Homo sapiens: one gene and its partners. The protein of the gene in region 1 purifies or fractionates together with the protein of each later gene. This does not show direct contact. Each region holds a gene or a part of one and is shown in the gene's direction. Other genes may lie near its edges. The genes, in order: FOXRED2, VWA8 and ZNG1A.

Region 1 (3,653 bases):
CACACCTGGCTAATTTTGTATTTTTAGTAGAGACTAGGTTTCACCATGTTGGCTAGGCTGGTCTCAAACTCCTGACCTCAGGTGATCCACCCGCCTTGGTCTCCCAAAGTGCTGAGATTACAGGCGTGAGTCAGCACGCCTGGCACCCCTGTCTCAACACCCCACATGCAAACCATGGGCAAGTCTTGTCACCTCTGCCTTCAGATGATGTCTGGAGCCCAACCAGCTCTCACCTGCTCTACCACCACCACCTCGGTCCCGATCACCAGGCTGTATCACCTGCACCCATACAACAGCCGCCCCACTTGGCCTGGCGTCTGTTCTCAGCACAGTAACCAGAGTGGTCCTTAGAAACCTGAGGCATGCTGATCCCAGCTCTGCTCAGTCCTCCCAAGCAACCAGCAGTGTCACCTCTCGGGCCAGACGACTCCTCACGTCTCGTCATGGGAGGCGCAGCCCTCCTTGACCTCTCAAGGCCTCCGGCCCCCTCTCCTGCCCTCTGCCTGCTGTTCACTCCCCTCAGCCACGTCGGCCTCTTCTGTTCCTTGAACACAAAGTGCTCACATACTCCTCAGGGCTTTTTCCTGACTGTTCTCTCTGCCTGGGACACTCTTTCCCCAGATATCCCATTCAGGTTACATGGAATTTTCTGGTCTCTACCCCACATGTGCGTGAGAGCTGAGCTGAAAAAGTAATGTTAAGTGAGGGGTGTGCTGCTTGATTGACGCTCCTTAGAGGGGGAGATACACACGCACACACACATGCTCACCCCCGGGCTGCACCCCTCACCTCTGCCACAGCACTGAGGGCCTCCCCCGCGTTGCTGTTCTCCCAGGAATTCCACGGCCTTTGAGTACCTGGAGGAGTTCCCCATACAGATGCTGGCCCAGCTGGAGACACTCACAGGGAGGAAGGCAAAGCACGGGCTCTTCGTCATCAACATGGAATATGGCAGAAATTTCTCTGGCCCCGACAAGGACGTCTTCTTTGATGACCGGTCTGTGGGGCACACAGAAGATGCCTGGCAGTCTAACTTTCTTCATCCTGTCATCTACTACTATAGATACCTCCCCACCGGTGAGCAGGTCTCTGCCCTTCCCCAACCTGTGGGCTCCTCAGACCTCACCGTCTGCAAGGTTGTCACCCACCCTGAAACCTTCACACACATGCTCAGCTGACAGGTGGGATGGCTGCGGGACTCTGCCTAGAGACCACTTGGGCAGAAGGTCCGAGAATGATGAACGATGCTTCCAGATTCTGACACATACCGTGACTGGCACAGGCCATGCGGGGGGTGTCGTGCTCTCCGCCAGGCACTGTGTAGTAAGAGGGACACGGCCCTGCTGCAGGTCTCCAGAGGCGGCTGACTGTGGTGGGGCGGGAGGGGTCTGAAGAGTAGAGGGAACTGGAGCTGGTTAACACAGTACAGAGAAACTGGGCAAAATCCCTAGGCCTGTCATTTTGTCACTGTGTGACCTTGGACCATTACTTAACCTCTCTGAGCCTCAACCTCCCCTCTGTAAAATGGGGATTACAACAGTACCTTTCTTGTAGGGTTCCATGAGGTTAAACCTGACAGTGTACACAGAATGCCAGCCCACTGCAGGCACAGAGTAGCTACCAATAAGTGAACAACCTCGGGAACGCACCCCCTGCTTCAGAGCTTGAAGGGCAGTCAGGTAGAAGAGGGTGGTTTAAACAGGGGTTGTTCCCAAAGGCAGAAGTCGTGTCAGCAGGTAGCAGTGACGGGTGCAGGTCTGTGGTCAGTATAAGGAGGCACTAAGAGGCTGGGCATGGTGGCTCATGACTGTAATCCCAGCACTTTGAGAGACCAAGGCAAGCGGATTATAAGGTCAGGAGTTCAAGACCAGCCTGGCCAAAATGGTGAAACCCCATCTCTAAAAAAACATGAAAAAAATGCAAAAATTAGCTGGGCATGGTGGCACATGCCTGTAATCCCAGCTATTCAGGAGGCTGAGGCAGGAGAATTGCTTGAACCGGGATCCGGGAGGCAGAGGTTGCAGTGAGCCGAGATTGTACCACTGCACTCCAGCCTGGGCTACAGAGCAAGACTCTGTCTCAAAAAAAACAAACAAACAAACAAAAAGGCCGGGCGCGGTCGCTCACGCCTGTAATCCCAGCATTTTGGGAGGCCGAGGCGGGCGGATCACGAGGTCAGGAGGTCGAGACCATCCTGGCCGACATAGTGAAACCCCGTCTCTAATAAAAATACAAAAATTAGCCAGCGTGGTGGCGTGCGCCTGTAGTCCCAGCTACTAGGGAGGCTGAGGCAGGAGAATCGCTTGAACCCAGGAGGCAGAGGCTGCAGTGAGCCAAGATTGTGCCACTGCACTCTAGCCTGGGAGACAGAGCGAGACTCTGTCTCAAAAAAAAAGAAAAAGGAGGCACTAAGAGTTAAAGCTGTTCAGTGGGGGAATTGGTCACCTCCAAATTCAGGTTTCCCAGAATAGCGACGGCCAAGTCTTGACTCGATGGCCATCTGACTGGAACACCACAGAAGGGAGCCCACACCAGGGAGAAGCTGAACTAGATGAGTGCTGAGACCCCTCGCCTCTATCTGAGTCTTCTCAGAGAAAGGCCAGTTTGAAAGCAGCCACAGCCAGGCGCAGTGGCTCATGCCTGTAATCCCAGCACTTTGGGAGGCTGAGGCGGGTGGGTCACCTGAGGTCAGGAGTTTGAGACCAGCCTGGCCAACATGGTAGAGACTAGAAACCCCATCTCTACGAAAAATGTAAAATATGAGCTCGGTGTGGTGGCGGGCACCTGTAATCCCAGCTACTCTGGAGGCAGAGGCACAAGAATCGCTTGAACCCAGGAGGTAGAGGTTGCGGTGAGCCTAAATTGTGCCACTGCATGACAGCCTGGGCAATAGAGCGAGACTGTCTCCAACAAATAATAATACAAAATAAAAAGCAGCCACAGTAGATCTCAGTCCATGTGAGTCTTAGGGAAACGCCAGCCTCACGTTGTTAGCTTCAGCACTGCCTTCCGAAACCACAAGGGAAAAGCCTAGTTCCTCTTCCTCATGGCAGCCTTTCAAATATCTGCAGGTGGCTCTTGAACAGTCTGACCACAGCCCAGCATAGGAGGCTGTCGGGAAAGCCGAGCACGAGTGAACGAGGGAAGTGTTTGGGCTGTGTGGGATCCGTGCTGTGTCGGCCCGAGGAGGGGAAGCCCAGCCTCACAGCTCTGACATGGCCCCCTCTCTCCTCCCCACAGAACAGGAGGTGAGGTTCCGCCCTGCACACTGGCCCCTGCCTCGGCCCACGGCCATCCATCACATCGTGGAAGACTTCTTAACAGACTGGACTGCCCCGATCGGGCACATCCTACCTCTGAGGCGCTTCCTGGAGAACTGTTTGGACACCGATTTGCGAAGCTTCTATGCAGGTAACTTAAGCTCCCAGAAAGACAAAGGGTCTGAGCTCCAGGTTGAAGAAAGGTCACAGAGACCCAAGACCCGTGGAGTTTCAGGACCCATATCTGGAAATCCAAACCCCAGACTACTGTTCCCGACAATGCCGTGGGTTAAATTACAACTCACCTAAAAATAATGGATAATATGTCTTCTTTTTTTTTTTTTTGAGATGGAGTCTCGCTCTGTTGCCCAGGCTGGAGTGTAGTGGCGCAAT
Region 2 (3,540 bases), on another chromosome or scaffold:
CCACCTCAAAGTGCTGGGTCTACAGGCGTCAGCCACCGTGCCTGGCTTGTTTCTTTTTTTTTTTTTTTTTTTGAAACGGTGTCTTGCTCTGTCGCCCAGGCTGGAGTGCAGTGGTACATTCTCAGCTCACTACAACCTGCGCCTCCCACACCCAAGCGACTCTCCTGTCCCAGCCCTCCGAGCAGCTGAGATCACAGGCGCATGTCACCATACCCAGCTAATTTTTTGTATTTTTAGTAGAGACAGGGTTCCACCATGCCGGCCAGGCCGGTCTCGAACTCCCGACCTTGTGATCTGCCAGCCTCGGCCTCCCAAAGTGCTGGGACCACAGACGTGAGCCACCGCGCCCGGCCTGTTTCTTTTTTTTTTTTTTTTTTTTTTTTAGTATTTATTGATCATTCTTGGGTGTTTCTCGGAGAGGGGGATTTGGCAGGGTCATAGGACAATAGTGGAGGGAAGGTCAGCAGATAAACATGTGAACAAGGGTCTCTGGTTTTCCTAGACAGAGGACCCTGCGGCCTTCCTCAGTGTTTGTGTCCCTGGGTACTTGAGATTAGGGAGTGGTGATGACTCTTAAGGAGCATGCTGCCTTCAAGCATCTGTTTAACAAAGCACATCTTGCACCGCCCTTAATCCATTTAACCCTGGGTGGACACAGCACATGTTTCAGAGATCATGGGGTTGGGGGTAAGGTTATAGATTAACAGCATCCCAAGGCAGAAGAATTTTTCTTAATACAGAACAAAATGGAGTCTCCCATGTCTACTTCTTTCTACACCAACACAGTAACAATCTGATCTCTTTTCCCCACATTTCCCCCTTTTCTATTCGACAAAGCCGCCATCGTCATCATGGCCCATTCTCAATGAGCTGTTGGGTACACCTCCCAGACGGGGTGGCAGCCTGGCAGAGGGGCTCCTCACTTCCCAGACGGGGCAGCCGGGCAGAGGCGCCCCCCACCTCCCTCCCAGACGGGGCGGCTGGCGGGGCGGGGGCTGACCCCCCACCTCCCTCCCGGACGGGGCGGCTGCCAGGCGGAGGGGCTCCTCACTTCGCAGACGGGCAGCTGCCGGGCGGAGGGGCTCCTCACTGCTCAGACGGGGCAGCCGATCAGAGACACTCCTCACCTCCCAGATGGGGTGGTGGTCGGGCAGAGACACTCCTCAATTCCCAGACGGGGTCGCCACCGGGCAGAGGCATTCCTCACATCCCAGACTGGGCGGCCGGTCAGAGGGGCTCCTCACATCTCAGACGATGGGCGGCCGGGCAGAGACACTCCTCACTTCCTAGACAGGATGGCGGCCGGGAAGAGGCGCCCCTCACTTCCCAGACTGGGCGGCCAGTCGGAGGGGCTCCTCACATCCCAGACGATGGGCGGCCAGGCAGAGACGCTCCTCACTTCCCAGACGGGGTGGCGGCCGGGTAGAGGCTGCAATCTCGGCACTTTGGGAGGCCAAGGCAGGCGGCTGGGAGGTGGAGGTTGCAGCGAGCCGAGATCACGCCACTGCACTCCAGCCTGGGCAATGTTGAGCACTGAGTGAGCGAGACTCCGTCTGCAATCCCGGCACCTCGGGAGGCGGAGGCAGGTAGATCACTCGCAGTCAGGAGCTGGAGACCAGCCCGGCCAACACGGCGAAACCCCGTCTCCACCAAAAAATGCAAAAACCAGTCAGGTGTGGCGGCGGGCACCTGCAATCCCAGGCACTCTGCAGGCTGAGGCAGGAGAATCAGGCAGGGAGGTTGCAGTGAGCCGAGATGGCGGCAGTACAGTCCAGCCTCGGCTTTGACAACTTTGGTGGCATCAGAGGGAGACCGGGGAGAGGGAGAGGGAGACGGGAGAGGGAGAGGGAGACGGGAGAGGGAGAGGGAGGAGGGAGAGGGAGACGGGAGAGGGAGACGGGAGAGGGACAGGGTTTTCTAGATATACAATCATATCATTGGTAAGCAGAATGACCGCTTTTAGAGTGCTCCCTGTCCCCAATTTTATGTGTAATTCATTTCACACACTTAAGCCTGCAACAGAAAAATGCACATCACAATTTTAAGTCACTTTCCTCCATCGTTATTGACGTGAGTACAATGTTTTTAGTATTATACCTTTGTTTATTGGAAACTCAACTCATTCCTTATTTTCCTCCTGTGTCATCTGCATCCTCCAATGTGATACCAAGTTTTATATTTTCTTATATTTTCTCACTTTAAGTGGAAGTGCAAGCTTCCACTTAAAACTAAGTGCCCACTGTGATAATTTTGGAATGATATCCTATATCTAATGAAATTCTATGCCAGATAACAAATATCACTGTATACTGTTGTCACTCAAATATGCAAATTAAATAGAACTAACTTAGAATGTACTACTCATGGGTAATAATTGGTATGTATGCATGCTCATGGTCAATAGAAAAATAATCGTATTTGTTAAAAAAGAAGTTTCTCAGCCATGGCTTTTGTGCAACTTCTTTTACCTCCAGACAATGCATGCCCACTCTCAGTTCTGCATGAGTGGGGACCACACGTTAGAAGGGACAGAACATGCCATCAAGGAAATTGTCAAAGAAGAAGCTGATGAGTACTTTGTCATAGTCTTGAGTGATGCAAATCTGTCACGATATGGAATACATCCTGCTAAGTTTGCTCAAATCCTCACAAGAGACCCTCAAGTAAATGCTTTTGCCATTTTTATTGGCTCTTTAGGTGATCAAGCAACCAGGTAAGTGTCATCTGAGCATACAGAAAAGGGCAGGTACAGAGATACTGAGTAGCTAACACATGCTGTTTTATAGGCTTAGCACCATGAGGGACAGTGAGGCAGATGGAGGAAAAACAGAAACTAAAGTTACTAGCCTCAAGGGGTTTATAATCTAGTTGAGGGGATATGTTCTAGCTTTTGTTTAGATGAACAATAATAATTTTAAATTAATTATTTTTTAGTTTATATTTAAGCCACTAATAAATCATTGACAAATTGATTTGTCACTAATAAACCGGGTAGTATTTTATACATTTGGCACTTTATGTCAAGCTCCTAAGCTCAGGCTAATCATTTTGTGTTCAAATCATATTAAAAATCGTGAACATCTACTATTTTCCTAGCATAGGAGATAGTGTGTGTGTATGAATGTCTGTACATATTAGACATATATATACACACATATGTATTATATCCCCATAGAGACATCACCTACATATATGCATGCCTGTATATATATATAGACACACTCACATGTATCCCTTCTTATTGCTGGAGAGACAAGGCAGGTGAAACACTTGGCGACAACATAAGATAATATACATATAGTTAGATACTACACTGAATATACTAAATATTCAATAGAGAATCTTATGATCAGACAATAAATACCAGTGGGTATGATCTGAAAGGAGAGATCTGGAAACACTTTCATAACTTGAACACAATAACATTTATCTTTTTGAATTACAAACAGAAAGAGCTCATGGTTTTTCTGTGTTTAAAATACCTGTAAGAAACATAAAACACCAGTGAAAGTAATCTTAAAAAAAAAAAAAAAAATCCCT
Region 3 (3,653 bases), on another chromosome or scaffold:
CACTGTCTATGGTAGCTATAGCCTTATGAAATATATTTCTTAAATAAGACTTAAAAGTCAAAGTTACTCCTTGATCAGTGGGCTGCAGAATGGATGTTGTGTTAGCAGGCATGAAAACAACATTAATCTTGTACATCTCCATCACAGCTCTTGGGTGATCAGGTGCGTTGTCAATGAGCAATAATATTTTGAAGGAATCTTTTCTTTTCTAAGCAGTAGATCTCAATGGTGGGCTTAAACTAAACCGTGCTGTAAACAGATGTGCTGTCATCTAGGCTTTATTATTTATAGAAAACAGGCAGAGGAGATTTAGCATAATTCTTAATGGCCCTAGAATTTTTAGGATAGTAAATGATTATTGGCTTCAACTTGAAGTCACCAGCTGCTTTAGCCTCTAACAAGAGAGTCAGCCTGTCCTTTGAATCTTTGAAGCCAGGCATTGACTTCTCTATAGCTATGAAAGTCCTAAATGGCATCTTCTTCCAAAAGGAGGCCATTTCATCTCCATTAAAAATCTGTTGCTGGCCGGGCTCGGTGGCTCATGCCTGTAATCTCAGCACTTTGGGAGGCCGAGGTGGGCAGTTCACGAGTTCAGGAGTTCAAGACCAGCCTGGCCAACATAGTGAAACCCCATCTCAGCTAAAAATACCAAAAATTAGCCTGGCTTGGTGGTGGGAGCCTGTAATCCCAGTTACTTGGGAGGCTGAGGTAGGAGAATGGCTTGAACCCGGGAGACGGAGGTGGCAGTGAGCTGAGATTGCACATTGCACTCCAGCCTGGGTGACAGAGCGAGACTCCATCTCAAAATAAATAAATAAATAAATAAAAAATAAGTCTGTTGCTTAGTGTAGCTACTTTCATGAATGATGTTAGCTACATCTTCTAGGTAGTTTACTACAGCTTCTATATCAGCATTTGCTGCTTTCCCTTGCACTTTTATGTTATGGAGATGGCTTCTTTCTTTAAATCTTGTGAACCAACCTCTGCTACCTTCCAACTTTTCTTCTCTAGCTTCCTCACCTCTCTCAGCCTTCATAGAACTGAAGAGAGTTAGGGTTGCTCTGAATTAGGCTTTGGCTTAAGGGAACATTGTGGCTTGTTTGATCATCTATCCAGACCACTTCATATCAGCAATAAGGCTGTTTTATTATCATTTGTGTGTTTACTGGAGTAGCACTTTTAATTTCCTTCAAGAACTTTTCCTTTGCATTCACAACTTAGCTAACTGGCTCAAGAGACCTAGCTTTTGGCGTATCTTGGCTTTCAACATAACTTCCTCACTAAGCATAATCATTTCTAGCTCTTGATTTAAAGTGAGAAACAGGTGACTGTTCCTTTCACTTGAACACTTACAGGCCATTGTAGGATATTAATTGGCCTAGTTTCATGTTGATCATATTCTTTATGTTGTCATGGTTCTGTCATAATTCTTTTAGTTCTATGTTTTAATAGTTTTGGTGCTTATTACCAGTACTGTTGCTTCTCCATTCCCGAGTTAGTCCATCTCCTGATTGAATTTCATTGTCAGGCAGTCTTTTCAAGTTACAGGTACTGCATGCATTCTTTGGGTTCTTATACACTTCATTGATTCAAAATATTTGTCTTTTGTTTTTATATTACTTGAAGGATTACTTGGCTAGGTATAAAATTTATCAGTCACACTTTATTCCCCCTCAACTTTGTAAATGTTGTTCCATAATCTCCTAGTGTTTGATTGGCTGGATTTCTTTGTCCAATGTTTTCTCTTTTTATTAGGAAGAATTTGTGAGTATTATAGTCTCTGAGTTTCAATGCTTGCTGTTTTCTTTAATGCTTGAGAATGTCTGTCTATTGCTTTCGTTCCTGAAAAATAACTTGTTTGGGAACACTTTCATTAGAACTTTGTGGTCCCTGTTTTATTATTTTGGGACATCTAGTGTTACTGTAGAAAAGTCTGATTTTTCTCCCTACCTCCTTGAAGGCAATTTTTTTTTTTAATCTAAAATGCCTGAGAGTTTTCTTCTTTATTTTTGAAATTCAGTAATATAAACAAGGTATATCTAAGTGTCACTTATAATCATTTTTCCCTAAATTATAGTATGCCCTTAGTTCTTCTAAGAACATTTTCCTTGTTTATTACCATGAATACTTTTTTTTGGTCAAATTATTAGATCCTCTACTTCATGACACCAGTTTTTTTAATACTGAATTTTCTTTTGTTGTTCGTATGTATTCTAATTGCTTTGATTTGTCTTTTACCTTTGCATTTACTGTGATCATCTGAAGCCTTTCTTTTTGTCAATAATTCTGTTTTCTCCAGTGTCTGTCCTGTTTTTGATATTTTAAATGAATTAATTGGTTAAGTCATTGTGTTATATAGGCTCTAAGTTTCTTTAGCGCTACAAACGCATTTTCATCTTATTCTGCTTCTTCTTGCTTTTGAGCTTGTTTATTATAAGGTTGTATTGTTTTCAAGTTCTTCATTATGATGAAGTTGTTGAGAATTTTCTTTAGTTTTTATTGGGTTATGTATCCTTCCAGAATGGGTTCTTTGCCACTTGTGTGCCCTATTCATTTCTTCATTTTGTGTTCTTTCTTGCTTTTTATTCCCTGTATGTGCGTGTTTCTTTTTGTCAGGCTGTAATACATATGCATACATGTTTCTTCTTGATGTGGGAGAACTTCTATGTGGTGCTGATGGGAAATATTTTTAATACTCCACTCTCCTTACCCAAGTTTGTTTTTCTCCTGAGCCCTAGTTTGAAAGCTGTATATTGTTGGAGTGGAGGGAAAGAGAAGGGAAAAGTGGTGATTCAGAGAGCCAAATGGGGCAATGTGGCTTTTAGGCTCTGCTCTCTTGAAGTACCAAGTATTTCACTCTTGGGTCTGCCCAACTGCTTATGAATAAAATTCCTTTGCCTTGTATGGGGACATCATTCGACCTCAGAGCTCTCATTTCTCTTTGTTCTGAGCCCTAGAATGTGACCTGACCTTCTCCTTCCCAAAGCAAAGAGATGGTTAAAACTCACTCTTGAAATTTTTTTGTTGACTTTTCCTTGTGTTGCTTATTCATTCCTCGGCTCTACTTTTTGTCATTTTGGAGTGTATTTCTGGTAAGTGTTTAGGATTTTGTAAACTATTTCCCTACAACCTCTTATTGGAGGTAGGGGTAGAGTTGGGAATGACCATCAATCACATATAACTTTGTTTCTTATTTTGACTATCAGTCTTCAAAATTTATGGCAGGCCCTTTTATATTTGGTTGCTGCTAATAAAATGTTGGCCTTTTTGTTTTATTTTTTGTTTTTATTTTTTGTTTTATTAGATTTTGAAGAAGGGAGATTCTAAAATGTAGTTCAGGTTTTCTCAGTGTCAGCACAAATAACATTTTGGGTTGGATAATTATTTGTTGTGAGGGGGTTGCCCTGTGCAGAGTAGGATATTTAACAACATCCCTGGCTTCTACCCACTAGATGCCAGTAGCATTCCCCTAGTTAAGACAACCAAAAACATCTTCAGACATTGCCAAATATTCCCTGGGGAGAAAAGCACCCTGATTTGAGAGCCACTGATCAATTTTGTTCATTCATCTTTACTCCCCCTAAATACCTACATCCAAATTTTAAATAGATCTTTCTCATGTAGTCTGGCAAGTATTATATCAAAGATAAATA

Evidence for each region.
Region 2: the proteins of FOXRED2 (region 1) and VWA8 purify together in Homo sapiens (affinity purification with mass spectrometry; one large-scale study listed by BioGRID and IntAct). This does not show direct contact.
Region 3: the proteins of FOXRED2 (region 1) and ZNG1A purify together in Homo sapiens (affinity purification with mass spectrometry; one large-scale study listed by BioGRID and IntAct). This does not show direct contact.

The regions. Positions count from the first base shown.
Region 1 is NC_000022.11:36,493,391-36,497,043, reverse strand, and holds part of FOXRED2 (FAD-dependent oxidoreductase domain-containing protein 2 isoform 1 precursor), read left to right. Parts: intron 1-789; exon of another isoform or gene 790-835; coding exon 836-1,077; intron 1,078-3,240; coding exon 3,241-3,411; intron 3,412-3,653.
Region 2 is NC_000013.11:41,569,641-41,573,180, reverse strand, and holds part of VWA8 (von Willebrand factor A domain-containing protein 8 isoform a precursor), read left to right. Parts: intron 1-2,474; coding exon 2,475-2,713; intron 2,714-3,540. UniProt on the Homo sapiens protein: Exhibits ATPase activity in vitro.
Region 3 is NC_000009.12:165,422-169,074, reverse strand, and holds part of ZNG1A (zinc-regulated GTPase metalloprotein activator 1A), read left to right. Parts: intron 1-3,653. UniProt on the Homo sapiens protein: Zinc chaperone that directly transfers zinc cofactor to target metalloproteins, thereby activating them.